Homo sapiens: one gene and its partners. The protein of the gene in region 1 interacts with the protein of each later gene in a pairwise test. Each region holds a gene or a part of one and is shown in the gene's direction. Other genes may lie near its edges.

The links.
Region 2: the proteins of NEK7 (region 1) and PPEF1 interact in binary tests that used the Homo sapiens proteins (3 or more experiments, as listed by UniProt).
Region 3: the proteins of NEK7 (region 1) and C11orf65 interact in binary tests that used the Homo sapiens proteins (3 or more experiments, as listed by UniProt).
Region 4: the proteins of NEK7 (region 1) and MMAB interact in binary tests that used the Homo sapiens proteins (3 or more experiments, as listed by UniProt).

Annotation. Positions count from the first base shown.
Region 1 is NC_000001.11:198,159,254-198,168,290, forward strand, and holds part of NEK7 (serine/threonine-protein kinase Nek7), read left to right. Parts: intron 1-9,037. UniProt on the Homo sapiens protein: Protein kinase which plays an important role in mitotic cell cycle progression. Required for microtubule nucleation activity of the centrosome, robust mitotic spindle formation and cytokinesis.
Region 2 is NC_000023.11:18,709,689-18,718,725, forward strand, and holds part of PPEF1 (serine/threonine-protein phosphatase with EF-hands 1), read left to right. Parts: intron 1-9,037. UniProt on the Homo sapiens protein: May have a role in the recovery or adaptation response of photoreceptors. May have a role in development.
Region 3 is NC_000011.10:108,400,742-108,409,778, reverse strand, and holds part of C11orf65 (protein MFI), read left to right. Parts: intron 1-2,629; coding exon 2,630-2,683; intron 2,684-2,815; coding exon 2,816-3,016; intron 3,017-4,219; coding exon 4,220-4,350; intron 4,351-9,037. UniProt on the Homo sapiens protein: Acts as an inhibitor of mitochondrial fission. Interacts with MFF and prevents DNM1L recruitment to mitochondria, promoting a more fused mitochondrial network.
Region 4 is NC_000012.12:109,551,178-109,556,504, reverse strand, and holds the end of MMAB (corrinoid adenosyltransferase MMAB precursor), read left to right. Parts: 3' UTR 1-2,790; downstream 2,791-5,327. UniProt on the Homo sapiens protein: Converts cob(I)alamin to adenosylcobalamin (adenosylcob(III)alamin), a coenzyme for methylmalonyl-CoA mutase, therefore participates in the final step of the vitamin B12 conversion.

The DNA of each region.
Region 1 (9,037 bases):
TGTCTGCGGAAGGGGCGCCAGGCTGAGGGCCAGCCTGGAGAAAGAAAGAAAGGAAGGAAGGAAGGAAGGAGGAGGGGGGCTTCAGTTTTCCCTGAGCCATCCTAGGTGTCCCGTTTCGTGATTCAGCTGCACCTAGAACTTAACTACTACTGAAAGTTTATAGTAGATTAGAAGCGAAGTTGGTCAGCAGACTAAATATAGTCCATGTGACTGAGGCGGGTTTTACTCTGAAATTACCTGAAAATGAAAACCACTAAATGTCAGAATCTAAATCGTTAGGCGTTTTCACAACTTCTTGGGAATCTTTCCATGGTTAAAAATCTTACCAATTTAACAAGACTAACTTTATTTCTAAGCGTACAGACTCATTTTATAGTCTGAACTAGTATTTAGGTTTATTTATTTAGATAATACATGTAGCACCCACCATTGCTTTCCCCCTTTCATATTTTCCTGTCTGGACAATTTCGAGTTCATTTCCATCCCAGTAAAACAGCACTTACCCAAAGAATGAGGAAAGCACATATGGTATGATGGCAGTGTACTAGTAGAGGAGGGGAGATTTGATGCCTCTATAGCTAACATACCTGATTAATAAATTTAAAAAAAAATTGCATCGTAATGACCAGAAGTCCAGTGCAGTTACAGTTTGTGTAAATAAGTACTTAATCTCATAAGGACCTCATGCCCCAAATCTTTCCTGGTGCTTGCAGTTGATAGTTTTGGGCTCTGACTTACTGTAAACATTTAAGTATTCTTTTTTTTTCCCCTCAATTATTGCGCATTTACTGAAATATAGACTTCTTTTTTTCACTTAAATATGTGGTCTGAGATATCATTAGAGACTTTTACAGTGTTTCCAGAACTAAACACTATTTTCCTAGGAACTATCTGATGTTTTAAGAATGTACCTCTGTAGTATTACAAATGTCGCCACCATTCAGGGTACCTGAGAACTGGGCCTGAGAGCAGGGCCCAGTTAAGTGTTAGTGATTACGCACTTTTGGGGAAAAAAAAAGTAGGTAATTCCAAAATTTCTTTCAGGTTTTGTTTCCCTTGATTTTTTTTTTTTTTTAAATAGGCTTTGGTATTTTAAAAATGCACAGTGTAGTATTTAAAAAATACACAGTGTAGCTGCAGCTGCAGCTGCACAAAACAGCACTCTGTCCTCATTCCCGGTTTCATTCACATTTAAGTGTTTACCCCTTCGAATTTTTGTTGGAAAACTACGAGGGTAGGTATTTCAGTGCATCGTCTATAAAACATATTAAACTTAATGTACGACTTAAGGGTGTCTTGGAAATGCCATGTATGATTACTGTTTGCTCCGAATTGTTTTATCAGCACTTCATCAGGATTTATGTAAATATATAGCAAGATGTTTTAAGACGCATTTCTTTACCCTTTTGAGACTTTTTCAATTTAATTCTCCCCCCTCCACCCATTTTTGTAGGGAATATGGATGAATAACATTTGGTTACATAATTGTAATCAAATATATGCATTTGTATAATATAATGGCAGTTCAGAATTTTTAAATTGATACAATTCAATCTCAGAGTTATAAAACTTCTAAACTGCTGAATTCTCCTTTGGTAATTAATAGTTTGATTATTCCTAGGTGTTGTGTATTTTCACAAAATTTTTTTTATTCTGAAGAAAACACTTACAGAGTATATTTCATGCTTTTCAGTGGGCAGTGGGAATGAGAAGGACAGATGATCATGAAGCATTCCTTAATATTTTTGAGCAGGATAACTTCTTTTTTAACCTTTGTCAAAATAACTGCCCTGCCATACTATTTAGGTAATGAGGTTATACAATGAGTGGTTTTGTTGTAATAGCTATCAAAGTGTTAAGCGGAACAATATATAAATGAATAAAACTGATTTTAGTGGTCTATAAAAATTGAGAAATACGTGTTTTCTGTTACATAATGGAAATAGGCCTTTTTGTAAATCTTATTAGTAGTCTTCTGTTGGTAGTGGGTAAGGGCTACTTTTTCAATCCAGTCTGCTTTTTTATAGAATAGTGATTCACAATTTTTTTCTCTGAAGGATCACATGGTAAATATTTCTGGCTTTGTGAGCCCTGTGATTGCATCTGCTGCCATTGTAGCCAAATACAGTATCTGACCAAGTGGGCATAGGTGTGTTCAAATAAAGCTTTATTTATACAAATAGGTTGGTAGCTTTCCCCCACTCTAGAAAATAATACCAGAGGTCTAAATGTGGTGCTATGCCATTGATGTTTGGGTTGATTCGGAATTTTCCACAACAGCGTTTTATAATTATTTTTGTGCTTAGACTCTTGTGACAATTTGTTGATCTTCCACAGTTCCCTCAGAATAATACCCAGCTGTCCATTCCCAAATTTTGTGTTTCATTTCAGAGTTTGTCAGCATAAGAACCTCTTTTAGGTTTATCCATGTTTTCAGGTTTCTTCACCATTCTTTGCTTCTGGAGGATCCCACTCCTATCCTGTGACATTGAATGAATGCCTGTCTGTGGCTCCCTGCTTCTGACTAAAGCGACATAGAATCTAATGTCAGTCATTTGTCTTTACTAAATGAAAACTACTAGACAAAGAAACATACCAAAACTTACTCATATGTTTCTTTGTCTAGTAGTTTTTATTTTAAGCCTACTGGTATGACTACCTTTGTCTACTTTAGAGGGAATTTTTGACATAAGCAAGGGGTTGGGCAAATTTTTTTCTTTTTAGGAAACATTAACTTAGTCTTTCAAAAAAGACTCTCCCCCGCCCCAGTAAAAAATATTGGAAAGAGCCTGTGCTTTAGCAGAGGGCCTACAGTCAAGGTATGTTTGGCCTGGGGTAGAGGTACTTCTGACCTTTGCTCTGAAAAGAATTAGCTGTAGACTTACCTGGGTGTAGCTACTGAGTAGCATAGAGCAGAATGGAAAATGCAACAGCTTTGTGAAAAAATTACACAGTACACTTTCTCAGCTCTAGTCAGGAGTGGGTTTTGTGTGTGCTGGACTTTTGACCCCTTAGCCCTCGGGGAAGCCCAGGTAGGACCTGGGACAATCAGAATTCCTGGCTAGTTGCCACCAGCTACAAGCAGTCTCTTCTCTTTATCTGACCCTGCTGCACATATATTATCATTATCTGTGTTTACCATGATGTGGAAAAGACTAGGCAGAAAACTCCAGGGTTGTCATTGCCTACTTTATGACCTTGGTTGAGTTGCTCATTTTATTCAGACTGTAGTTGTCGCAACTCATAAAGTTGCCTTGAGGAGTAAATGAAAATACCTTTGTAAATGTATGGTAGCAGGCCCAGTGTTAGTTTCATTTCACTTACTTCTCTATTCTTAGGACCTTCAGGGGTGGGAAACACATCTCCTGTTGTCAGTTTGTTCTGATGACAGGCCCTGTCACCCACTCTGCCTTGGCCCAGTTTTGTCTTAATGGGCTGCTTCCCACTTCTGCCATTTCCACTTCCTCTGCTTGAATTCTCCTTTTCCTTTGCCCTGTGATTTCCATATTCAAAATTTAATGGTTCCTACATTTGAGTTAGTTTTTATGACTTTCTTTGGAGTGTGGGGAGAGCCAGCAAGCCATAGTTTCTCAGGCAGAAAAAGGCACAAGAGGCTTGGGGGGTTATATTATGGACTACAAATAATGTGAGTTGCAAAAAGATCTTTAAATACAGATTCAAAAAATTGGCAAAATTAAAAATGTTCTTCCTAGCATGCTTAAAATTGTTTTTTTAAATTGTTGAAATATTTCCCCTATATCCTTATATTTACCTAGGTGAATTACTATACATTTTATTATGGTTATAATCATAACAAAGACATATGTCCTTATATTATGGTTGGAAAAGTTGAATAGATGTGTTTATGAAAAATTGTTATACTTCTAAAATGTAATGAATTCCTAATCTTGTATTGCCTTTATATCTAACTGCTGGACCATATAGTAAAGTGATATGATACCGGCACAGTGGCTCATACTTGTAGTCTCAGCACTTTGGGAGGCCAAGGTGGGAAGATTGCTTGAGACCTGGAGTTCAAGACCAGCCTGATCAATATAGTGAGACCCTGTCACTACAAAAAATTTAAAAAAAATTAGTTGGGCTTGGTGGCACGCACCTGTAATCCCAGCTACTTGGGAGGCTAAGGCAGGAGGATTGCTTGGGCCTGGAGGATGGCTTGAGTCTAGGATTTCGAGGCTGCAGTGAGCTGTGATGATGCCACCGCACTCCCACCTGGTGACAGAGTGAGACCCTGTCTCTAAAAAAAATAAAAAAAAAATTAAAAAAAGAGACACCTAGAATAGGTCATTTGTTTTATGCAAATAGTATATCTTTATTCCAAACAGTTTATTTCTAGGTGTGGTTTGTTAGTCAATAAATACATGTAAATTGAAAGGTCTTATATAAGAAGATTTTTCTGGGGGGAGGATTGGTTTATGGAACGAATTATTTCTTATTTTTCATGGCAACCTACAAATTGACTTCCTTTGTTCTCATCACCGTCTTTGTTGTTAGAATATGTTTAGAGTAGTCTGGTGGTAGGTGTGGTATTCAGTGAAAACTGACATTTTTTTCCATTTTCAAAATGCATTTAAAATAAAGTTTTAATAATGTATTTACTGTTAAGAAATATTTTTTATTGTTGAATGACATATTGTTTTCACCTTCACTTTTATGGCTTTGAGTATTTACAATATCAGCTGTTGGCTGGGCACTGTGGCTCACACCTGTAATCCCAGCGCTTTGGAGGCCGAGGCTGAGCAGACTGCTTGAGCCCAGGAGTTTGAGACCAGCCTTGGAAACATGACAAAACCCCATCTTTACTAAAAATGCAACAACAACAACAACAACAAAAAATCAGCTGTCAGTAAAGATTGTCTTTAGTTACATAGTTCTCCCGTTTACTCCTCTAATCACTTTTTTTAAGTGGAAAGGAATTTGTTACTGAACATTTAATAGTATTTAATGGTTGTGAGGGAGTTTGAGCTTCCAGCAGAATGTCCCAGTACCAGGCCCCCAAGGGAGTTTCTGCCTCTTCTGTGATCAGAAGTCCACCGGTCTAGGGCCATACAGCCACTGCTCTGGTCAAGACACAGTTACAGTAAGAAAAATCCTGCTATTTGGGGGACCCTAGAACCATACCCTGCCTATTGTGGTCCAGGAAACAATGCTGTGGGCCCTAGCTCTATACAGGCATTATTCAGAGATATTGCAGGTTCTAGTCTAGACCACTGCAATAAAGTGAATCTTGCAATAAAGCGAGTCAGATGAATCTTTTGGTTTCCAAGTGCATATGGGAGTTAGAGTTACACTATACTGTAGTCTATACAGTGTGCAATAGCATTATGTCTAAAAAATATACATAATTAAAAAATATTTTATTGCCAAAAAATGCTAACGATCATCTGAACCTTCAGCAGTTCATAATATTTTTGCTGGTGGAGGGTCTTACCTCAATGTTGATGGCTGCTAAATGATTACGGTGACGGTCACTGAAGGCTGGTGGCTGTGTCGTTTTCTTAAAAGTAGACAACCATAAAGCTTGCCACATCAATTGACTCTTTCTTTCATGAAAAATTTCTCTGTAGCATATGATGCTGTTTGATAGCATTTTACCCAAAGTAGAAAATCTTGTACAATTGGAGTCAATCCTCTCAAACCCTGCTGCTGCTTAAAAGTTTATGGAATATTCTAAATCCTATGTTGTCATTTTAGCCATGTTCACAGCATTTTCATCAGGAGTAGATTCCGTCTTAAGACGCATTTTCTTTGCTCATTTATAAAAAGCGACTCCTCATCCATTGAAGTTTTATCATGGGATTGTAGCAATTCAGTTACATCTTCAGGCTTACTTTTAATTCTAGTTCTCTTGCTGTTTCCACCACATTTGTAGTGACTTCCTTCACTGAAATCTTGACTCCCTCAAAGTCGTCCATGAGGGTTGGAATCAACTTCTTCCAAACTCCTATTGACATTGATATTTTGACTTCCTCCCATGAATGACAATCGTTTTTAATGGCATCTAGAATGGTGAATCCTTTTCAGAAGGTTTTCAGTTTACTTTACCCAGATCTATCAGAGTGATCACTGTTTATGACAGCTATAGATTTAAGAAATGTATTTCGTATTCTTAGATAAGAAGACTTGAAAGTGGATTATTCCTTGATCCGTGGGCTGTAGAATGGATGTTGTGTCAGTAGGCATGAAAACAACATTAATCATCTTGTATATTTCCATCAGAGCTGTTGGTGACTAGGTACATTGTCAATTAGTAGTCATATTTTGAAAGAAATCTTTTTCTGAGCAGTCGGTCTCAACAGTGGGCTTAAAATACTCAAAAAACCATGCTGTAAACTGATGTGCTGTTGCCCAGGTTTTGTTTTTCCACTTATAGCACACAGGCAGAGTAGATTTAGCATAATTCTTAAGGGCCCTAGGATTTTCAGGGGATGCTAAATGAGCATTGGGTTCACCAGCTGCGTCAGCCCTTAACCAGAGCCTGTTCTTGAAGCTTTGAAGCCAGGCATTGACCTCTCTCTAGCTATAAAAGTCCTAGATGGCATCTTTTTCAAATAGAAGGCTGTTTTATCCATATTGGAAATCTGTTGTTTAGTGTAGCCACCTTTATCAATGATCTTAGCTAGATCTTCTGGATAACTTGCTGTAGCTTCTACTTCAGCAATTGCTGCTTCAACTTGCATTTTTATATGATAGAGATGACATATTTCCTTGGACTTCATGGACCAACCTCTGTTAACTCCATTTTTTCTTCTGCAGCTTCCTCACCACTCTCAGCCTTCACAGAGCTGAAGGGAGTTAGTGCCTTGCCCTGGATTAGACTTTGATTTAAGGAAATGTGACTGGTTTGATCTTCTATCCAGACCGCTAAAACTTTCTCTGTCTCAGCCGTAAGGCTGTTTCACTTTCTTATCATTGGTGTGTTCACTGAGTATCACTTTTTTCTTTTGTCTTTTTATACAGATGTTTTACTCAATTATAGAAAATTTTAAACACATTCAAAATAAACAAAATAGTGTAATAGACCAGCTCCGAGCTTCAGCAACCACTGATAATGTACCATTTTGGACTAGCACTTTTAATTTCCTTCAAGAACTTCTCTTTTGCATTCACAACTTGGCTGTTTGGCTCCAGAGGCCTAGCTTCTGAGCTACTAGCTTCTGACCTGTCTTGACCTTTGACATGCCTTTCTCACTAAGCTTAATCATTTCCAGCTTTTGATTTAAAGTGAGAGATGGGTGACTCTTTCTTTCACTCGAACACTTGAAGGCCATTGTAGGGTTATTAATTGGCTTAATTTTCATTATTGTTGTGTCTCAGGGAATAGTGAGGCCCAAGGAGAGGGAGAGAGATGGGAACGGCTGGTGCAGTGAAGCAGTCAGAACATTCACACACCATGTATCGTTAAGTTTACCGTTTTATTTGGACATGATTCATGGTGCCCCAAAACAAATACAGTAACATCAAAGATTGCTGATCACAGACCACCATAAAAGATATAATAATAGTGACATAGTTTGAATTATTGCAAGAATATCCAATATGTGACACAGAGATATGGAGTGAGCACATGCTATTGGAAAAATGACACTAACAGACTAACTTCACATAGGGTTGCCACAAACCTTCAGTTTATAAAAAACACAATGTGTGAAGCACAATAAAATGAGATATGCCTTCATTAGTTTTCTGTAACTGCTGTATCAAATTATTACAAACTAGATGGTATAAAACAACAAATTTATTCTGTCACCATTCTGCAGGCCAGAAGTCAGAAGTCAGGGTGTTGACAGTGCCGTGTTCTCTCTGAAGGCTTAAGGGAGAATGTGGCTCATGCCTTTCTCTTAGCTTCTGGTATTGGCAGCAATCCTTGTCTTTCCTTGGCTTGTGGATATATCACTCCATTCTCTGCCTCTGACATGCAGGTTCTTCCTATGTGTTTTCGCTTGTGTCTCTTCTCATAAGGACATCCTCATGACCTCACCTTTGCTGCCTATCACTCTTACACTTAAAATTCAACAAGCAAAATCTATGCTTTTCTATTCAGATTCTTTACTTAGAAAAGATTTTCAAATTTCTGATGTTTTTGGTCTTAACAGCAGATTTTAAGATTGTGCGGAGGTTGTGTCTGAGAGATAAAGGCACCCAAGGCATCTTATATGATATGCACTCATTAACATGATGATGATAATAACAGGAGAGAAAATGCCACTTCAAGCAAGGTGAAAGAAAATAGTACATCTAAGTGTTAGTTTTAGTTCCTTCTCAACCAAACGGTCCCTTGTTACTGGACTGCTTAGGCTGTGTACTGTTCTCACCATTTTTGGCATTTTTACAAAATTTCTCTCAACTGGGTGTGAAAGCTTACCACTTCCCTTGCTCCTGAGGTGTTTTTTTGCACAGGGGCAAAAGCTCTTTGCCTTGCCACTTAGAGATTTTGCCTCTAGTTACCATTACCTACCTGTAGTTCTCTATCTTGTTTCACAGCTCGACTGCACCAGACTTTTCTGTCTTGCATGTCTGGCCACGCTGGAAAGTGTTCAAGAACATTATGATGAGTAACCTGTTCCTTTTTCCATGACTGTCTTATTTCCATCTGGGACTTTGATAACAAGTGACAGGCACTTGAGTCCCATCTAACTTCCCTCCTTGTCAGTAGATACAAGCCTTTGCATTCAAGTGTTGCTCTTTATTCAAAAGCCTGTTTGGCAATTTTAAAACTGTTTTCTATCAGCGATTTGTTTTCACCTTTTAAAAAAATTTGGAGTTTATAAACAGCACAAGCCCTTGTTGTTTATGACCATTTCCCCTTCTCTTTATTTATTATAAGAAGATGCAGCTTGACATAGAAAGTTTTCAAATCGTGGGTCAAGTCCAGGTGTATTTTTTTATTTTTCAAATGCCAAACATAGGTTCTGACACTTAGTGTGAGCTAAATGTAATATATATGGAACTCAGTTTAAGAGTTGAGTGCCTGGCCTAGGGGAGAGTGATTTTGTGGTTAATGATTCAGATAATA
Region 2 (9,037 bases), on another chromosome or scaffold:
GGTTTCACCATGTTGGCCAGGCTGGTCTCGAACTCCTGACCTCAGGTGATCTGCCCGCCTCGGCCTCCCAAAGCGCTAGGATTACAGGCGTGAGCCACTGTGCCCGACCTGTTTCAGCTTTTTGACTGTTATGAACAATGCTGCTGTGAACATATGTTTTCCGTTCTCTTGGGTATATACCTAGAAGTGGAATTGCTGGGTCATACGGTAGCTTTATGTTTAACATTTTGAGAAATTTCCAAGCTGTTTTCCCAAGTGACTGCACCATTCTACATTCCTACCAGCAGTGTATAAAGGTTTCAATTTCTCCACATTTTCAGCGATAGTTGTTATTGTCTGTCCTTTTGATTTTAGTCATCCTAGTGGGTATGAAGTGGTATCACACCATGGTTTTCATTTGTATTTCAGTAGTGACTAATGACATTGAGCATCTTTTCATGTGTTTATTGGCTATTTGTATATCTGCTTTGGAGAAATGTCTATTCAGATCATTTACCCATTTTTAATTGAATTATTTATTTTTATATTGTTGTAAGATAAATTTATATATTCTAGATACAAGTTTCCTATCAAATATGTGACTTGCAAATATTTTCTCTCATTTGTTGAATTCTCTTCATCCTTTCTTAATGGTGTTCTTTGAAGCACAAAAGTTTTTACTTTTGATGAAGTTCACTTTATTTTTTCTTTGGTTGCTTGTGATTTTGGTGTCATATCTAAGAATCCATTCCCGAGTCCAAAAAGATTTTTGCTCACGTCTTACTTTAAGAGTTTTGTAACAACTCAACAAGAAAAAAAAGATAACTCCATTAAAAAGTGGGCAAAGGTCATGAACAGACATTTTTTCAAAAGAAGGCATACAAATGGCTAACAAACACACGAAAAAAATGCTCAACATCACTAATCATCAGGTAAATGCAAATTGAAACCATAATGAGATACCACCTTACATACCGGTCAGAATGGCTATTACTAAAAAGTCAAAAAATAAGAGATGTAGGCAAGGATGTAGGGAAAAGGGAATGTTTATCACTGCTGGTGGGAATGTAAATTAGTACAACCTCTGTGGAAAACATTATGGAGATTTCTCAAAGAACTAAAAATAGAGCTACCAAACTACCATTTCATCCAGCAATCCCACCACGGAGTCTACCCAAAGGAAGTCATTATATCAAATAGATATCTACACTCTTATGTTTACCGCAGCACTATTTACAATAGCAAAGATATGGAATCACCGTAAGTGTTTTTCAATGGATGATTGGGTAAAGAAAATGTGTGGTGTATGTATATGTAAGTGTGTGTGTGTGTATATATGTGTGTGTGTGTATGTGTGTGTATATATACGTATATATGTATGTATGTGTGTGCATATATATATGTATATATATGTGTGTGTGTGTGTATATATATATATATGCATGCCATGGAATACTACTCAGCCATAAAAAAGAATGAAATCATGTCTTTTGCAGCAACATGGATGGAACAAGAAGCCATTATCCTAAGTGAAATTACTCAAAAAACAGAAAGTCAAATACCCCATGTTCTCACTTAAAAGTGGGAGCTAAATAATGTATACATATGGGCATCCAGAATACAATAATAGACACTGGAGACTCAGAAAGCTGGGAGGGTGGGAGGGGGGTGAGGTATGAGAAATTACCTAATGAGTACAATGTATGCTACTTGGGTAATGGTTACGCTAAAAGCCCAGACTTCATTATACATGTAACAAAATTACACTTATACCCCCTAAATATATATGTTTTTAAAGGCCAAAAAAAGTTTTGTACTTTTAGCTCTTACTTTTAGGCATTTGAACCATTTTGAGTTGCTGATTTTCACGTATGGTGTGAGGTAGGAGTACAAATTCATTTTTTGCATGTGGATATCCAGTTGTCTCAGCACTGTTTGTTGAAAAGATTGTTCTTTCCCCATTGAATCCTCTTAGCACCATTGTCAAAAATCAATTGACCATAAATGTTTATTTCTGGGCTCTCAATTCTATTCCAGTGATCTGTATGTCTTTCTTATGCCAGTACCAGTGTCTGGATTACTATAGCTTTTTTTTTTTTTTTTTGAGACGGAGTCTTACTCTTGTAGCCCAGGCTGGAGTGCAATGGCACAATCTCAGCTCACTGCAACCTCCGCCTCCCAGGTTCAAGTGACTCTCCTGCCTCAGCCTCCGGAGTAGCTGGGATTACAGGCACAAACCACCACATCTGGCTAATTTTTGTATTTTTGGTAGAGACGGGGTTTCACCATGTTGGCCAGGCTGGTCTGAACTCCTGACCTTGTGATCCGCCCGCCTTGGCCTCCCAAAGTGCTGGGATTACAGGCATAAGCCACCACGCCAGGCCTACTATAGCTTTTTTTAATAAAGTTTTGAAATTGGGAAGTATGAATTCTTCAACTTTGTTTCTCTTTTTCAAGATTATTTTGGCTATTCTGGGTCCCTTACATTTCCATATGAATTTTAGAATCAATGTGTCAGTGTCTCAAAAGAAGCCAAGTGGAATGTTGAGAGGGGTTGTGTTGAATCTGTAGATCAATTTGGGGAGTATTGCTATATTAACAATTAAATAATCTGATCCATGAACATGGGATGTCTTTCCATCTATTTAGATCTTTAATTTCTTTCACCAGTGTCTTGTAGTGTTCAGAGTATAAGTTTTACACTTCTTTCCTTAAATTTAACCTAGGTTTTTTATTCTTTTTGATGATATTATACATGGATTTTTGTTAATTTCATTTTTGGATTGTTTATTGCAAATGTTTAAAAATTGATTTTTGTATATTGGTCTTATATCCCAAAACTTTACTGAACTCATTAGCTCTAATAGGTTTTTAGTGGATATTTTAGGAATTTTTATTTACAAACCAGGTCATCTGCAAATATAGTTTTACTTGTTTCTTTCCAATGCCTTTTGTTTCATTTTCTTGCCTCCACTACAATGTCAAATAGAAATGCAAGAGTAGCCATCCTTGTCTTGTTCCTGATCTTAAGGGAGAAACATTCAGTGTTTCACCAGTAAGTCTTATATCAGCTGTGTCTTTTTCATAGATGCTCTTTCTCAGGTTGAGAAAACACACTCCTATTCCTAGTTTATTGATTTTTTTATTATTACAAAGTGGTGTTTAATTTTGTCAAATGCTTTCTCTGCATGTATTGAGATGATCTTGTGGTTTTTGTCCTTTATTTTATGATATGGCATATAATGTTAATTAAATGGCACATTATGTTAATTGATGTTAAGCCAACTTCGCATTCCTAGGATAAATCCCCTTGATCATGGTGTATAATGCTTTTTATATGCTGCTGAATTCAGTTTGCTGGTATTTTGTAGAGGAATCTTGCAACTATATTCATAAGAGATACTGATCTATAGTTTTCTTGTGATATCTTTGTCTGATTTAACTGTCAGGGTAATATTGGCCTCATAGAATGAGTTGGAAAGTGTTCCCTTCTCCTCCATTTTTTGGAAGAGTTCATGAAGAATTGGTATTAATTCTTTAAATATTTGGTAGAATTCATCAGTGAAGCTATCTGGGCATGAGGTTTTCTTTGTGCGTAGTTTTTTTGATTACTTATTCTGTCTCTTGTTATATGACTATTTAGATTTTCTATTCCTTCTTGAGTCATTTGTGGTAGTTCTAGGAATTTGCCCATTTCATCTACATTATCTAATTTGTTGACATATACTTGTTCAGAGTATTCCCTTAAAATTCTTTTTTTTTTTTTTTTTTCTTTACTGCTCCATTGCTCCTTATGGAGCAGGGCAAACCCATATGGAGTGCGTCCAGAAGAGCCATTTAAAATTCTTTTTCTTCTTTTATCTCTTGTTGGATATGCCAATCAAGGTTTATTATGAGTTCATAATAATAAATCTGCTGAAAGCTGATGCAGTGATGTTTACTTATATTTATTCATAGACAAACATTGTGTGCATAAAATTTTCTCTCATTCAGATATTTGGAAAAAATATAGAAAAGCAGTTGAAAATAATGAATACTCCCTCATCATTCCACTACCCAGAGATAATGACAACATTCTGATAATTTCCTTCAATGTATTTTTTGTATATTATAGATTTCTGATCATCCTAAATGTTAGTTTTTTGTAGCCTCACTTTCAGCACTAAAATGTTATGTAAACATTTCTCAAGTTGTTATAAATGCTTTGCAAACATCATTTTAGTCATTGCTAAGTATTTTATTTGGTGAATAGGCCATAATATGCTTAATTATTCTTCAAATATTGGACCTTTTAATACTAATATAAATAACACTTTGAAGAATTTCTTTGTGCAAAGCCTTTTCCTTATTTTGGATTATTTCTATATTCAGGTGATTAGATATGAAATTATCGTGTCAAGGGCTATAAATATTTTGAAAGCTCTTGATAGAAAATGATAGATATTATTTCCTGATTACTAACCATATTCCAAAGAGTGTTCAACATAATCTACATATGTTTTATCTAATCCTTGTAATAAACCTGAATAAAGGGTTATTATTCCTGTTTGTATAGTGGAAGCAGCTCATGCTCAGTGTGGTACTTGGTAAGTTTGTTTTTCGTTTTTTTGTTTTTTTTTTTTGAGATGGAATCTCACTCTGTCGCCTGGGCTGGAGCGCAGTGGCGTGATCTCGGCTCACTGCACCCTTCACCTCCCGGGTTCAAGTGATTCTCCTGCCTCAGCCTCCTGAGTAGCTGGGATTACAGGCGCCCACCACTATGCCCAGCTAATTTTTTGTATTTTTAGTAGAGGCGGGGCTTCACCATGTTGGCCAGGCTGGTCTTGAACTCCTGACCTTATGGTTCGCCCGCCTCGGCCTCCCAAAGTGCTGGGATTATAGGCGTGAGCCACCGTGCCCAGCCTACTTGGTAAGTTTATGCAGCTTACAGCTGGCAGAGTTGGGATTTGAATTCAAGGAGTTTTGATGACAAAGTATTTTTTGCTGTCACCCATTACACCATTTTATGCCACCTCTGAATGTTGCTGCTTCAGAAGCTAGCTTTAATTAAATTTACTTATATACAGTACCTTGTATTTGCATAGTGCTTTTCAAGTTGGCCAGGCCCTGTAACATACGTTTGATCCTCACAGCCTTTTGAAGGGTTGTTCTCAGTTTGCAGAAAAGGAAATGAGGCTTTGAAAGGCAAAGTGATTGCCTCAAGGGAACACAGCAAGTCACAGAGCCAAGGCTCGTGCTTGATTCCTGTTTCCACTGGTCTGACTAGTGTTAAGGGTTTTTTGTCCTGCTAGGTCGTTCCACCTGACCACAGTACTCTGCCTCTGGAGTATCACGGCAGTTTGAGAAAGCGTAACCTACATATAAAATCGAGGCTATTCCCTTTCTTGTGCTCTACCCAGCTTCCATGTAGAGAAGTAGCATCGGGCCAGGCGCGGTGACTCACGCCTGTAATCCCAACACTTTGAGAGGCGGGTGAATCACTTGAGCCCAGGAGTTTGAGGTTGCAGTGAGCTATGATTATGCCACTGCACTCCAGCCAGGACCACCACTGAGTGAGACCCTGACTCTTAAAAGAAGAAAAAGACCAGGCACAGTGGCTCACACCTGTAATCCCAGCACTTTGAGAGGCTGAGGTGGGTGGATCACTTGAGGTCAGGAGTTCAAGACCAGCCTGGTCAACATGGTGAGACACTGTCTCTACTAAAAATAGAAAAATTAGCTGGGCGTGACGGCACATGCCTGTAATCCCAGTTACTTGGGAGGCTGAGGCAGGAGAATTGCCTGAACCTGGGAGGCAGACAGGTTGCAGTGAGCCAAGATCATGCCACTGCACTCCAGCCTGGGCAACAGAGTGAGACTCCATCTCAAAAAAAAAAGTAACATCAATTTTATATTGTCATTGTTATTTTATTTCTTTTGTGATATGTAGCAGGTAAGAGAGGACTAATAATAGCTATCATTTATTGAGTGCCTGCTACTCTCATTATTTCTTACCAAAACTCTTAAAGCTTTGATTAGTCTCCCTCGTTTTATAAATGAGGAAAGTGAGACTTAACTGCCCCAAGTTACACACTCATGGGTGGCAGAGCCTGAATTGGAACCAGATCTGGCAGATTCCAAAGTTCATGGCCCTTCTGATATGCTACCCTGACTTGGAGAATTGGAATTTATCCACATAACAGAAATTAAACATTGCAATTTCATTCTCCTGAATTTCACTTGACACTTAAAATTTTATGTTAATGGTATTTCAATTAATAATCTATTGCCTTTTTGTTCCCATGGAGCACTTTGGAAACACTGATATATTTTATTTCTTCCCTTGAGACCACTTAGAAATGTATTTATTCAATTTCTGTAAGTGCTAAGAGGCCGACAAAGACAATCCGTGCTTTTTTGGCTTTGTGGTTTGATGCGTAAGCTGTGACAAATAGAAGTTTCTCTAAAGGAAATTGTTCCTTTCAAAAGTACTCATTCTTTATTTTATATGAAAAAAACTTAAAAATACTGAATAGCAAACTAAATATTTCTTTAATTCTTGGTAAAACATCTAGTTAATTTAGCTGTTTAAAAATCAAACAATCGCCAGGCGCGGTGGCTCACGCCTGTAATCCCAGCACTTTGGGAGGCCGAGGCGGGTGAATCACGAGGTCAGGAGATTGAGACCATCCTGGCTAACACGGTGCAACCCCATCTTTACTAAAAATACAAAAAATTAGCAGGGCGTGGTGGCGGGCGCCTGTAGTCCCAGCTCCTCGGGAGGCTGAGGAAGGTGAATGGCGTGAACCCAGGAGGCGGAGCTTGCAGTGAGCCAAGATCACACCACTGCACTACAGCCTGGGCGAGAGAGCGAGACACCATCTCAAAAAAAAAAAAAAAAAAAAAAATCGAACAATCAAGCCATTCACAGCTGCTTGAGAGCCCCCCTCCCGGCTCTCCATCCCCATCTCCTTACTCCCAATTTGAAGTCCTTTACTGTGATGTATATTTCAGTTTGAGACCTTCATGGAAAAATAACAAATGAAAATCTTTCATCTTTGGTGTTCCCTAAAGAATTTTCTCCAAGTTTAGAGGGCCTCTTGCCATTCTCCTTGCTATTGTTTGTCAGAGGGTTCTAGGTTATCATAGCCATCAAGCAGTCTTTACTGCCACCGTAGGGTATATTGAAAATCCCTGTGAACTCGGACCGTCCTCATTTTCCTCCTCAATGAACTGCAGACAGAGAAGATGCTCTTTCAAGTCCATTGTCCCTCTAAGACTATCCGTATGCTCTGTAGCTGTGGGAGGGGTAGGTAGGGGAGGGCATTGATTTTCCTTCTGCCTCTCCTGCTCATTCCGCTAGCTATTGCTCATCAGCATCTTGACATGCTCGGTGACTTTCCTCTTTTTTTCCTTTTTCCTTTTTTTTTTTTTTGGTTTGTATATATATATATATTTTTTTCTCAAGCCATTTTGTTTTGCTTTTGTTTTCCTCCCCAAATATTTTTGAAAATTGCAAACCTACAGAGAAGATGAAAGAATAGTACATAAACACCCGTTTGAAATAATTTGAAAATAAGCTGTAGACATTATGGAATTAACCTCTACGTACTTCAGCATGCATCTACTAAAAGAGGGATATTCTCTTATATAACTACAATACTAGATCACCCTGAAGAAATTTAACATTGATAGTGTAACATTATCTAACATGTAGTCCATATTCAGAATTTCCCAGTTGTCCAAAATTGCCCTTTGTAACTGTTCTTTCCTTCCCTTTAAAATAAGTCTTCTCTGGCCCTCTCATCCCCTCCAGTTCCTCTCGTCTCTCTCCTCCCCTTCAAGCTCGCTCCTTAGGGGTGCATTTGTACCCGCTGTCTCCTACCTCCTCTTTGATCCCAGCCCAGGGAAGATGATCTGACAGGTTCTTGAATGACCTCGAAGTCCAATGGAGCATTTTCAGTGCTGATTTTGCTCACTTCCTGGCAGTCTTTGGCACTCCTGCCCACTCCCTTCTTACTACTCATTGCCCTTGGCTTCAGGGGCAACACATTCTCCTGGTTTTTCTTTTAGGTCTCTGCATGAACTATTTATGTGGACTCTACTTTCTCCTGGCTTTTAAATGTTGGGGCTCCTCTGGGTTCCCCCTTGGCTCTCTGGTTTTGTCACTCTAACACTCTCCTTGGATGCTTTTTCTAGTCCATGGCTTTGACATCAGTGTGTCAAGACTCCAAATCTTTATTTTCAGCCCACATCATATGCTCTAATCCCTGTTTTATTGGGAATCATTTTAAATAAGTACTTTTCTTTGTAAAAGGAGACCATTTTCTTCATCTGAAATCATGATTCCTCTCACTACCAATTCTTAGGTAATAGTCACCGTTTGATATGATAATGTGTTGGCCTGGAGGTTTGTATAGGATTGGTACTACAAACACATTTAATGCCTGTATGAAACAGACAAAACAAAACAAACCCATCCCAACAACCTTTTTATTCTTTACACCAATTAAATACATCTTCATCTTTTTATTTGCTGTGTGATTAATTTACCTTTGCTTTAAAAATTTCAAGTATTTTGAGACTCTGATAGGGGCTATTTAGATATCCATTTTAGAATCGTGAACCTTTAGAAGGCAGAAAGGCCAGGTGTAGTAGCCATGTCTGTAATCCCAGCACTTTGGGAGGCTGAGGCGGGAGGATCACTTGAGGCTAGGAGTTTGAAACCAGCCTGGGCAACATAGCAATACCTCGTCTCTACCAAAGGAAAAAAAAAATAGCTGGACATGGTGGCTCGCACCTGTAGTCCCAGCTACATAGGAGGCTGAGGCAGAGGATCACTTGAGCCCAGGAGGATCACTTGAGCCCAGGAGGTGGAGGCTGCAGTGAACCATGATCGTACCACTGCACTCCAGCCCGGGCAACAGAGCAAGACATTGTCTCAAAAAAGAAAAAACAAAAACACACACACAACACAACACAAAACCCAAAGAGAGCAGAACCACCTCTTTGTTTAAATGATTTTTACTGGCTTCCAGCTTTACTAGGAAATTCACAAAGAAGCCAGCTTTCCAGTTGG
Region 3 (9,037 bases), on another chromosome or scaffold:
CTATGAGAATCTAATGTTGCTGCTGATCTGACAGGATGGGGAGCTCAGGCAGTAATGCTCCTGCCGCTCACCTCCTGCTGTGTGGCCCAGTCTTAACAGGCCATGGACTGGTACCAGTCCATGGCCTGGGGGTTGGGGACCCCTGCTGTAGAGTATCAGTTGTTTACCCTCATGATCATGTGGCTGACTGGAAGCTGTGGCTTGCTGCCACTGCCCAGCATCACGACAAGAGCATCATACCACATATTGCTAGCCTGGGAAAAGATCAAAATTCAAAATGTGAAGTATGATTTCTACTGAATGCATATCACTTTCACACCATTGTAGTCAAAATTGTAAGTTGAACCACTTTAAGTCGGGGCCATCTGTATACTTACATACCATATATACCTCATGACCTCTCATATTTCATTCCTGGGTATGTAACAAAGAGAAATGATTGTTATAACCCACAGAAGACATAAAAATGAATGTTCACAGAATGAGTAGTTTTATTCATTTTAACCCAAAACTAGAGACATATCAAATGTCCAACAATAATATAAATTGTCATATATTCTATTATATGATGGAATGTTAGATAGCAGTGAAAAAGAACTAACTGCTGCTATCTACAACTACATACACGAATCTTAGAGATTTATCACAGATTCATGTTGAGCAAAATAAGCCAAGCACAAGAGAGTACAATACATATGTAAAAATTCATGGAGCTGTACACTTAAGATCTGTCCACCTTAGTGAAAAAAATGTGTATATATTATTATGGCTCAAATATAGAAAATATGTTTTATAACAGGATCTCACACTTCATATTTGAATTCATAAAAGTTTTAGTCAAGAGAAGATTATTCTGCAAAATTAATGTTGTCTTTAAGACTCTATAGGTTGAATAACATCTATTTTCTGATCTAACCTAATATGATCAGGAGACAAGATTGAACTGTCTTCCGATAAAGGACCAAGAATTTTTTTCTCTACTTTCCATTTGGTGCTGCATACCAAACTAAAATCTAGAAAACCTATTATATACAATTCTTATATCATTTTATTTTATTTTATTTTATTTTATTTTATTTTATTTTATTTTATTTTATTTTATTTATTGAGACAGAGTCTCTGTTGCCCAGGCTGGAGTGCAGTGGTGCAATCTCTGCTCACTGAAGCCTCCACCTCCCTGGTTCAAGCGATTCTCCTGCCTCAGCCTCCAGAGTAGCTGGAATTACAGGCATCCGACACCACACCCAGCTAATTTTTGTATTTTTAGTAGAGACAGGGTTTCACCATGTTGGCCAGGCTGGCTTTGGAACTCCTGACCTCAAACAATCCACCCTCCTCGGCTTCCCAAAGTGTTGGGATTACAGGTGTGAGCCACCACGCCCGGCCCAGAATTTTAAACATGGATTTTTAAATTTAACAATAGCTAATTAGGAAAGGTCATCTACTGTTGAATTTAGGTTGATCAGTCATAATTTTTTCTTTGAATTTACCTGCAAGATAATATTTTATATGTAATATTTGAGGAGTTATTTAAAAGTTAAGTTTTATGACTAAAAAATTACTTGGCTTTTATGTTTATATATTGCATAAAAAGGAAACAGTTTGGTATCATTTTTTCATTTACCATAGATGTCCATAAGAAATTAAGTCCTTTTAGTGGGTGCAGCGCACCAGCATGGCACATGTATACCTATGTAACTAACCTGCACATTGTGCACATGTACCCTAAAACTTAAAGTGTAATAATAAAATAATAATAATAATAATAATAATAATAATAAAAAGAAATTAAGTCCTTAGCTCATAAAATATTTTCTTTTCTTTTCTTTTTTTTTTTTTTTTTTTTTGAGACAGAGTCTTGCTCTGTCGCCCAGGCTGGAGTGCAGTGGGGCGATCTTGGCTCACTGCAAACTCTGCCTCCTGGGTTCGTGCCATTCTCCTGCCTCAGCCTCCTGAGTAGCTGAGACTACAGGTGCCTGCCACCATGCCTAGCTAATTTTTTGTATTTTTAGTAGAGACGGGGTTTCACCGTGGTCTCGATCTCCTGACCTCATTATCCACCCACCTCGGCCTCCCAAAGTTCTGGGATTACAGGCGTGAGCCACCATGCCCGGCCTCATAAAATATTTTCTAATTACAAAAAAAAAATTTTTTTTAATGGCTGAGCACAGTGGCTCATGCCTGTAATCTTAGCACTTTGGGAGGCCAAGACAGGAGTATCACTTGAGGCCAAGAATTCGAGACCAGCTTGGCAACATAGGAAGACTCTTGTCTCTACAAAAAAAAAAAAAAATACAAAATTAGCCAGGCATGGTGGTGCACACCTGTAGTCTCAGCTATCTGGGAGGCTGAGATGGGAGCATCGCTTGAGCCCAGGAGGTTAAGGCTGCAGTGAGCTGAGATCATGCCACCGCACTCCAGCCTGGGCAACAGAGTGAAATCCCATCTCAAAAAAATTTTTTTAACAATTTTTCTAATTTAAAATTGATTATTTGAGGTTGGTTCACCTGACTGATTTCCTAAATAGTCAATATTTAGCAATTATTTAAAATAATAGAGTGAGAAATAGTGAATTGATACATACAGAATCCTGAAGAATAATATATAAGAATAATATATTTTCTTATAGGCAGAGCTTCTAGATGCTGCTGCTGGCATTCATGTGCGATTCAGATTAGGTGGAGTAAGTATGGATGAATGCTTATTTAGTAGTTATAAAGCACATTTTTATGAAATTGAAACAATGTAATTTTTCAAAATGTAAAACATTTTTGTAGTTACATTACAATGGCTCTTTGAACTTTTCCTTCTACAGGTTAAATTTCCACCTGATATATACTATAAGATTTTTACTCACAGACCTATTGAAGATCTCTGTGCTAACAGCCCTAGAAATTATGCAAAACTTCCAGCAAAGCATACATCTCATAATAAAAATGATCATCTTCAGGAAGAGGATCATAGTGGCTGGTATCATCGTATAGAAAACAATGGCTGGAGGCCAGTTTCTGATACAGTAAGAAAAGAGAAATGTTAATTTTTAACCTTACGTATTTAGAAACCCATTTGTCTTTTCAAAAATTAATTTTAAAATTATTTTTTAAAATAATAAATCCTAGTAATTTAATTGATAAATTTTGCTTAAGTTAGCTACTCAGGGGTTGCTAATAATACTTCAAGGCACAGCAATTTATCTTTTTCTTACTACATTTATTTCTACTTTTAATTATCAGCTTTGAATCTAGACCATCTTTAGATACTCTCTGGTACTCAGCAGATTATATACCCAGTATACGGATTGTAGAATTTGGTATGTTGAATATATTAACACTAAGTATGACCAGGCTCTGTGGCTCATGCCTGTAATCCCAGCACTTTGAGCTGAGATGGCACCACTGCACTTCAGCCTGGGCGACAGAGTGAGACTCTGTCTCAAAAAACAAACTAACAACAACAACAAAAACAAACACAAAAGAATATACCAAGTATGAAAAGTGAAAATGATCAAGGTATGAATTCATTCATTTGTTTAATAATAAACTATTGCATATCAACCATATACCAGACATTGTTCTGGATGCAGGGGATAGACTTAAGTAGTTTGCCTTTCAATTAGGGAGACAGTCAAGTAAACAGGATATTTCAGTACAGTGTGGTAAACATGTTAAGTGGTTTAATAAGGGCAAATATATAGTGTTTGGAAGGATTAACAAACTTTCCTTATTATCTAGGGTATGTGTGATAGAGCAGGGGGAATGAGTTGGAAGGGGGAAAATAGACAACCAGTTAGGAGAAAATGTCATAACGGGGAAACCACAAAGTCTTAGGACATGGTACAGGGACTTCTGCATTCCTGAAGGGTGGCTGTACTCCTTGAGGATTAGAGTCATCAAAAGCCATCAGCACTAAGAGTAGGTCAGGTCTATTCATGTGAGAAGATGAGACACTCTTAGAATATATCTGTTTATTTATCCATTCAACACTTATTAAGCACCTCAGTACACTAGTACTTTGTTGATCTATCTGTAGCATGTGCTTCTGAAGGCTGAGTGTACTACTCACCCATCACTTAATTAGAAATACCTTGAAAGTATCTATCCTCTCCTCTGTTTCTATCTTGCCATATTCCTACTGAACACATAGAAGTTCTTGTCTATTGCCAGATAACCTCACAATCGATATTTCAACATTTTGTATGTTCATTTTTGTTTCTCAATAGTTTTGGCTATCTACTGATGGTATGGTGGTGGAAGACAAAAAGGAAAGTGAATTCCATTTCTCTAAACTGAAGAGAAGGCAAGATTTGGAAAAGAAAAGAAAACTTAGAAAAATAGAGTGGATGAGGCAAATGTAAGTTGATGAAACACTTACTAAGGAAATACGTAGTATTTTGGGAAAAAAACAAATTTGAAATGAGGTATTGCTCCTCACAAGAGGGCATTAGCTGCAGGGGGTCTGCCCGCAGACCCTGACCCAAACGACAGATGAATAAAACGCACACTGACACACAGATATTCTGTTTTGCCAGTCCTGCTGAGTGTCCAACCGCCTACACACCAAGAGAGGCTTGTCACTGCAGCTGGCCCCAATCAGCTAGGGAGACTCATATTTATTCATTAAGATTAGTTAACAAAAGTTTGAGTGAACGCCATTAGAGGCTAACTGACATTGTGGACTTCCCGAGTAAAAAGCACACATCAAAGGCTTGTCTTAAGACCGCATGAGTAAACAAGCTAACTAGGTAAAACTTCGCCACATCCCGTTGTTTACTACTTTAATCTTTTTAACTAAAGTTAATGGGACCAGGCCGCCTTCGGCCCGGTCTGTTACCGAGGTCATGTGAAAACCCTCAGGCCTTCCAAAAAGGTTTTGTGGCCATCATAACTAATATTTTTCCCAGCAGCCTGATCGAATCCCAACATTGGAGAACTATACTACTTGATTTCAAGACTTATAAAGCTACTGTAATCATGACATTGTGGTATTGGCATATAGACAGAAATATAGGTCAATGGAACAGAATATGGAATTGTGAAATAAACCCCCATGTGGCCGGGCGCGGTGGCTCACGCCTGTAATCCCAGCACTTTGGGAGGCTGAGGCAGGCAGATCACGAGATCGGGAGATTGAGACCATCCTCGCTAACATGGTGAAACCCCGTCTCTAGTTAAAAATCCAAAAAAAAAAAAAAAGAAAAGAAAAAATTAGCCGGGCTTGGTGGCAGGCGCCTGTAGTCCCAGCTACTTGGGAGGCTGAGGCAGGAGAATGGCGTGAACCCAGGAGGCGGAGCTTGCAGTGAGCAGAGATCGCACCACTGCACTCCAGCCTGGGTGACAGAGCGAGACTCCATCTCGAAACAAACACAAAAAAAAGTATCAAAGACAGAAAGTGGAAGTTACAAGGCTTTTTAAGGCCTTATCTTGGAAGTCACAGCAACATTTATTTTGCATTCCATTGGTCAAACTCAAGTCCTAACAGGCCTAAGGGGGTCAAGTAAAAGGTGGGACTCACAGGAAGTTCCATATACATTACAGCTTCACTTGCAGTACAGAGGGGAAGGGAAATCCTACTGGGACAGAACCTCAAGTAGCATACCTGGTTGTATATTGTGCCTGAAAGAAAAGATGGCCAGAAGTATAGATCTATAGATGGATGGTGATTGATGGATGGTTTGACTGGATGGTCAGGGATTTGGAAAGAACATGGTTAGAAAATTGGTGACAAGTGGTCTGGGGAAGAGGTATGTGCAGACTTCTCCAGATGGGCACCAAGTGAGAAGATGCTTGTGTCGTATGTGAATGCTCACCAAAGAACAATCTCAACAGAGAAGAATCTTAATAATCAGGTGAGCAAGATGACTCATTCCTTGGAATCAGTCAGCCTTTCCCCCCAGCCACTGCTATCCTCGCACTATCCAGCCTGGGCGACAGAGCGAGACTCCGTCTCAAAAAAATAAATAAATAAACCCCCATGTATATTGTTAATTAATTTTCAACAGAGGTGCCAAGGGAACTTAATTGGGAAAAAATAGTCTTTTCAACAAATTGGATTTTCAAATGCAGAAAAATGAAACTTGAGTGTTCTCTTACAGCATGTGTAAAATTAACTGAAAAGAGATTATAGATCTAAATATAAGAGCAAAAACCATAAAGCATCTAAAAGTAATTGAAGGAGAAAATCTTAGTGCCTTTTGTTCTGGCCAAGATTTTTTAAAGAGGACATAGAAGTCAGGAACTATAAAAGAAACAATTTTAAATTTTACTTTATCAAAATTAAAAGCCATAGACCGGGATAAAACATTTGCAAAATATATATCTGACAAAGTTCTTGAATCAAGAATATGTAAAAAAAAAAAAAACAAAAAAAAAACCTCTCAAACAATCACATTTTAAAGTGGGCAAAAAATTTGAATAAACACTCCATCAGTGAAGATACATACCTAGCAAATTAGCATAACTCAACCAGTGACTATGATTAATCATTAGAGAAGTGCTAACTAAAATGATAATGAGATACCCCTACACACCCACTAGAATGACTGAAATAGTCTGTCATGCCAATTGTTGGCAAGGATATGGAGCAAATGCAAATTAGAATGTGTACTTCAGAAAACGGTTTGACAAGTTTTTTTTTAAACAAGTAAACACACCAAATATTCTACCTAGTCATTCCACCCCTACATGCTTACCCAAGAGAAATAAAAACATGTCCACAGAAAGATTGTATGTGAATGTTCATAGCTGGTTTATTTGTCATTTTAATTGCGAAAAACCAGAAACAGCACAAATTTGCATCAGCAGGTGAATGGATAAGCAAGTGGTAGGATATCTACACAAAGGAATACTACGCAGCAGTACAACAGAATGAACTACTGATAGACAGAATGACATGGACGAACCTCAAAATAATGCCGAATGAAATAAATCTATCAAAAAAGAATACATACTGTATGATTCCATTCACATACAATTCTAGAAGACACAAATCTGAAGTGACACAAATCAGATCAGTAGTTGTCTGGAGATAGGAAAGAGGAAAAAGAGAGGGATTCCAAAGGAGTACAAGGAAACGTCAGAGGGTGATGGATAGATTTATTTTTTATTGTAGTGATGGATTTACAGGTATATAGACATGTCAAAACTGTACATTGTACAATTTAAATATGTGTAGTTTATTGTACATCAACCATACCTCAATAAAATAGTAAAAAAAAAAAAAATTAAAAACCTGTGCAGAAAATCAGAAGACCTCCCTGGCAGCTCTGAAGTGGTCCTTTATCTCATAGTCACAGCATGGGTTGAGGGCAACCCTGGGTTCCATTGCAAGGGTCACAGGGTTACAATGCCTACAGTACTACCAAATGCTTAACTCTGCCAGGTCTTTTGCACTAAGATAAGGGCACTAGTGGGGAAGAAGTAGAACTCTGAGGCCTGGGATTAGGACATTTGGGCAAACATACACAAGGCTAAGAATCTTGAACTTCCAAAGTGCCTTGTTGGTGTAGGGAACCCTTACTCTCCCTTTTGAGGGAAGCGGCCCTTTTCTGCATAAAAGCCTTTCAGTGACTGCACTGGCACAGTTGCCACACACACTTAAGCTGATTCTCCTCAGGATTCCCCCTCTACTATTTCTCATTGCCTTTAGCTCACAATGAGATTTGTATTTCAGGACAGCCCAGACAGAGGTACAAGGTCCACTCCAAGAGGAGATAGTTTATAAACCAGAACAGTTACAAGAAATTACTAATCTACATTGCCAGGAATCTCAGAAGCATTGTGTGAGGGTGGATTCTAAGGTTGTTAGATCGAGAGTTGGCTGGGCCGAACTTACTGATATGGCCATACTCACCTGGGATTGTGGATTTAATGCTTTGGCCAGAAATTATGTTAATGGTCTGTTAAGTTAGCTAATCAAAGCCTGATTTAGGTAGAGCCAACCAAAGTTCTACCTTTGCAAAATGCTGGAACTTCTCTGGTATACTGTAGTGTAGCAGGATTGATAAGGAATCAGAGAGACCGATGGGGTAGAGGAGGATATTTGTTATTTTAGGTGTACTGGCCCAGTCGGATTAACATCCAAAGGACTGAGCCCTGAACAAAGAGTTAAGTTACCTTTTAAGCATTTCATGGGGTTGGGGGAGATCTGTGCAGGGGGAAGCATATTACAGAAGCAAGAAACAAAGATAGTTATTCAATTAATTGAGAAGTGCATTACATCGTTTCTTACTTTTCAAGGAAAACATGTTTTATGACTTGAGTTTATCTGTCTAGTGACCTTGCAGCTGCACAGCTAGAGAAACAGGGTCTTCACAATGCCTGGGAAAGAAGGAGAGATAAGGCTCACTAGCCACAGAAAAACAGGCAGTTAATTTTTAAAGGACTCCAGCTCTTTCTCCTTCTTAGGGGGAGTTGGGTTTTCTTACGTACAGCTGAGTTTTTGTTTACACATTCTTTTTTTTTTCTTTTTTTAATTTCTGTTCCATTAGAAAAAGGATTTCTAAAAGTTCAGGGAATTGTGTGTTTGTTTCTGTTATGTGCAATCTACTAAACCACCGTCTAGCCATCACCCCAGGAAGTTCCAGGAGATACCTTTTTCATCAAGCTATGAAGTAATAGCTTGGTGAGGGGAGCGAGGGGAGCAGCATATTTCTTTCTCTTTTTTTTTTTCTTTGAGACGGAGTCTCACTCTGTCACCCAGGCTGGAGTGCAGTGGCGCAATCTCGGCTCACTGCAACCTCTGCCTCCCAGGTTCAAGCAATTCTCCTATCTCAGCCTGCCGAGTAGCTGGGATAACAGGCATGTGCCACCATGCCTGGCTAATTTTTTTTTGTATTTTTAGTAGAGGCAGGGTTTCAACATATTGGCCAGGCTGGTCTTGAACTCCTGACCTTGTGATCTGCCTGCCTCGGCCTCCCAAAGTGCTGGGATTACAGGCATGAGCCACCACGTCTGGCCCAGGAGCAGCATATTTCTTGATGAACTCTGTGGTGGCTGTCCTTTACAAGGCTGGAGATGACAGTGGGGAAAGCTGTGATGGA
Region 4 (5,327 bases), on another chromosome or scaffold:
AGTTTAGTCACCTCTGAGCCACCCATCACCGCCAAAGTGTGGGGGAAGGATAGCTGCAGATTGACAGGCGAGGCTCAGAAACTCCTGGCTTAGATTGAAGTGTGTGTGATGGGGGTGCAGCTTAGAGGACCCCCTCTGAAAGGGATGGAGATGCTGATGAGAACAACACTACCACTTGAAGGTGAACATTCCCTGTCTGGTTGGACTGAGTCAAGGGTCTGCGGTGCAGCATCTTCAGCTTGAGAAAATGAGGTTGTCAGTTTCCAGCAAGGCTGACATCCACCAGACTGATTTCTCCGATGTTGCACTTGGCTGGCTTATGCCTCTGAGATCGGTGCCACGGCTGTATTTATTTCAGTTGTCACTGCTGCTCCCTCCTGCTATGAAACGACACTGCCAGTGCCAGCAGTGTCCTTGGGAAAGGCAATATTTATGAAGGGCAGAAGAGGCAGCCCCAAGAACCTAAAGACTGCAGGCTGCTAATTGCAGGAAATGACTTTGGAAGGGCAGGCTCTTGTCCAGTTTCAGGGCTGAAATGCCTGGCGAACTCCATTCAGCCATCACATATTGACTGAGTGGCTGCTTAGCATGGGCCACCGCGCTAGGCTCGGGACAGCTGGTCTTTCCGGCCATCTTTCTTGCTGGCAAGTCAGCAAACATTACCTTCTTAGTCACGTGCATATTTTTGCCTTCATTCTTACCACCTGGCCTGCAAAGTTTGCAGGAGGGCCAGGTATATTCACTTGTGTCTTCTGGGTCCTTTCATTGCTGACAGGCTGTGATGGCCCTCTTGAGCCTTGGGCAGGGTGGGTGAGGTGCAGATGACCAGGAGTGTGTGAATGCCTTCCAGGAGGTGGCTTTGTTCCGTGCCTCCCTGCCCCCATCGTCACTACCAGGTCTGGTACGGAGTCGGTGCTCAGTGTTTGCAAAACAGAGCTGAAAACGGACTTTGGGAGGCCGAGGCAGGCAGATCACCTGAGGTCAGGAGTTTGAGACCAGCCTGGTCAACATGGTAAAACCCCATTTCTGCTAAAAAAAAAAAAAAAAAAAAAAAATTAGCTGGGCATGGTGGCGGGTGCCTGTAATCCCAGCTATTCAGGAGGCTGAGGCAGGAGAATCACTTGAACCTACGAGGCAGAGGCTGCAGTGAGCCAAGATCGTGACACGACACTCCAGCCTGGCTGATAGAGTGAGACTCCGTCACAAAAAAAAAAAAAAAAAAAAAAAAACCCTGAAAACGCAATCACTAAGGCTCGGTCAGGGAGTATGTTCAAAGAGCTTGCAGCGAATCACTCAATTCTGTCTACACCTCAAAATCTCAAAATCTTCCTGGAATATATATATATATATAAAATAACACAGCAGCCCTGCATGCCTAGCCATGGGAAAGCACAGCCTCCAAAGGATAAGGAAAGCTTTTTGAGTAAATACAACATCCTAAAGTGACAATCTTTGAAACAAGGCCGTTCACCTGTTGCCAAGTCCTGTCCTTCCAGGACCGGGTGTCACAGCCTGGATGTTAACAGTCGCGTTCTCAGACCCCCGCCTCTGTATCTGTCTCCCGGTTCACCAGCAAACACTTCTCTGAGAAACCACCTGGGTGCAGGGCAGATGCCACCACTCAGCAGGTGTTTCTCTCCTGTGCTACCAACCTGGGAAAAATGGAGAAAGCTTGCTTTGGGGGCTGGAAGGATGGGGTGTTTAAAACATTTGCTCTTCTGCAGTGCCTTTCAAAAGCTCTATCAAGAGCCCGAGGCAAAAGAAAAGATGTGTACCCCTCTGTACACTGAGCAAATGTCCTCCCATATTTTGAACCAGGTGGGAAAAGTTAATGAAAGCCCTACAGTCAGGAAATGTGACTGCGAAGCCCCCGCTGCCCCAGTGTTTGCACACCACTGGCAACTCTCAGAAACAATCAGTCCCATTGCACGGGAACACGGGGTTTTGAAACAAACAGCAGCCTGTTTTTATTTAAAGTCGTGATCCCTTGCTTATCGTAGATTTTTTTCATAATTTGATTTTGGAAAATATTGCACACAAATACTACTCGATCCCTGAGTTTGTGGGCACTTCCTTACATTTTGCACCCATGAAAATGCCTCCTCCGCCTCCAGGTCAGGCTCCCTGGAATGGGGTGTTTAGTGTCATTTCCAGAGACAAGCTGGCAGTTGGCTCTTGTGTCAGAGAGAAGCCCACAGTCACAGTGACACCAGCCCGCACTGTGGAAGGGCTTGCTATGTGCAGTGCCCTGAGCCAAGTGTTCCACAGACATTATCTCATTTGAACCCCATAGCAGCCCTGGAAGGAGGCATTGGGTGGGGAACCAAGTTGTCCTGGGGAGTCAGTGCCAAGATGTGAGCCCCGGACGCGGCCTCGTCACTCACAGCCCCGTGCTCCTCAGCTCCCACCCACTGCCGCTTGACAGTCGTTTTAATCACTACCTGGGCTGTGGCGAACAATGCCAGGCTCTGATAGATCCTGCTGTCTCATTTCTCAACCTAGTTTCCCTTAACTAATATTTCATGGCTATCGTTAATGTGCGTTTTTCATCGAGTAATTTCCACAGCCCGAACTTGTAACACATCCCAATGACAAACGTCCCCAGTTCGGAAGCCCCCGTCAGTGGCAATGTCACCCTTGCTGCTGCCTCGACACCTTCCGACAGCCCATTCAGTTTTATGATCGCCCTGTCCCAGTGATCACTACTGAACCTTTAAGAATCCAGATGCATTTCAAGTTTAATTGAATAAAATTCTTTGTATAATAAATTCCGCATGAATGCTACATAAATCAGTGCCTGGAAGGATTTGTGGCTCATCCCTCCCCTCTGGCGGGGCCTGAGAATCTTCTGGCAATACTGACACAAGCTGGAATAAATGCATCTTTGCAGTCAGTCCAGCTAGAGGCAGGCGGCACAGTTTTAACTTGCCTTGGCCTATTGCTTTTCTTCTCTCAGAGTCCTCCTGGAAGATAGTGCTAAAGTCCAACAGAGGCAGGGACAGGCAGATTGCGGAGACCTAGAAACTTTGGGGACATCCCTCGTGTTCTCCCATTCCACAGAATCAGAAACTTCTCAAGCTGTGGTTTGTCACCTTTGGAATGCACACACACATATTCACAAGTTTGCATCCAGTCATAGGAAGTCCATGGAACCTCCCGGTAAGAATCCCTTTTCTAAGAGAACCCATGCGACCCTCTTCGGGAGCTAAGTCAGGATTCCCAAGGCTGCCTTCAGCAGCCTGTTTCAGGGTCAGATAGCTCCAGCCTGGAAGGGTGAGAAGATGCACTTGGGGCTGGCTGGGAGAGGCTGCTGGGTGACCTTTGATGCTTGTAGGGTTGTGGGGTGCAGGGAAGGACTGTCAAACAGCTGGCTTGGGCACTGGCCCCAGGCAGGCTCAGGTTCAAGGCCAGCTTTGTCACCTCCTGCCTTGGTGACTGGGCAAGTCATTCCATCTGTCTCGGTCTTGCTCCTCCACCTATAGAATGGGAATCATAACATCCACCCCATGGGTCACTGGGATTGTTTAATGAGGTAATACTTAAAAGAGTAATATTGCCCCCTGGCAAATATTAGCTCCTGTTATTACAGTTGTTTGCTATTACTACTACTATTTGAATTCAGATTCCATCTTTGTCACTTCCAGCATCTCCTTAAGCAAATGGTTTAACCACTCAAAGCCTCTTTATCTTTTATAATAGGATAATAATACCAATTTCCAAGAGTTCAGAAATAAGTCCACAGGCCCCAGACATGATAGCAGCTCCAAAAAATAGCTATTGTTGTTCAATCATATTTGACCCTTTTCAAAGCACGTTCTAAAAGCTCATCCCCAGGTGACGCTGAGGACAGCATGGCAGCACCTCTGGCCCCTCAGGCTTGCTGAGTGGGTGGGGGAGACAGGTGGCCTCCAGAGGTGGCCAGGCACAATCAGATGAGAAGATGGGGATGTGGCTCCAGGAACACAGGGCCAAAGTGAAAGTGAGAGTGAATTGCAGGACAATGAGAGCTGAACACGGTCTCAGACATCATTGCTCCCATTTTATAAATGAGGAAACTGAGGCCTGGAGAGGAGAACTATTTTTTTTTTTTTTTTGAGATGGAGTCTCACCCTGTCACCCAGGCTGGAGTGCAATGGCATGATCTCAGCTCACTGCAACCTCCACCTCCCGGGTTCAAGCGATTCTCCTGCCTCAGCCTCCTGAGTAGCTGGGATTACAGGCCCATGCTACCACACCCAGATAATTTTTTGTATCTTTAGTAGAGATGGGGTTTCACCATGTTGGCCAGGCTGGCCTCAAACTCCTGACCTCAGGTGATCTGCCCACCTCGGCCTCCCAAAGTGCTGGGATTACAGGTGTGAGCCACTGCGCCTGGCCTTTTTTTTTTTTTTTTTTGAGACCGAGTCTTGCTCTGTCACCCAGGCTGGAGTGCGATGGCGTGATCTCGGCTCAACTGCAACCTCCACCTCCTGGGTTCAAGTGATTCTCCGGCCTCAGCCTCCTGAGTAGCTGGGATTATAGGCATGCATCACGATGCCTGGCTAATTTTTTTTTGTATTTTTAGTAGAGACAAGGTTTCGCCATGTTAGCCAGGCTGGTCTCGAACTCCTGACCTCAAGTGATCCACCTGCCTTGGCCTCCCAAAGTGCTGAGATTATAGGCGTGAGCCACCTTGCCCAGCAGAGAGGAGAACTTAATAAGTACATCTTAATAAGGACCACACATAGAGCACTGATTATGTCCAGGCATCTTGCTAAGAACCTTACATTCAATAGTTCATTTAATTATGTCAAGAGCTCATGGAGGTGGAACTATTAATATTATCACCCCCAACTTACAGATGAGGAAACTGAGGCCCAGAGAGGAGATAGGAGTTTCTCAAGGTCAGACAGCTAGGAGGCAGAACCAGGCTTTAAATCAGGGCTCTGTGCCTCAAACACCATGACAGGCATTTCCTCAACACCTAGCTCTATGCTCAATTGTACTACAGTGCCAGGGTGTTCATGTCTTTCTAGTTCTCAGAACCCTACAAGGTACATACAATTATCCTCCCCATTTCACAGGTGAGGAAACGGGGGCTCCAAGGGTAAAGTCACTTGCTCAAAGTCACACAGTGTCCATGGGGGTGACACTGGGTATAATGATACTGTCAACAGCTGACACTTACTAAGCTCTCCTTACCACCAGAGCTTTTTAAACCATCTCAGCATAGCTAACCTTGGAGAGCACCTTCCTTGCATGCTTGGCATGTATTCCCCATAACAACCCCACCAAGTGGATGTTAGTACCTTTGCGTCATAGACTCAGAAACCGAGGCACAGGGAGAC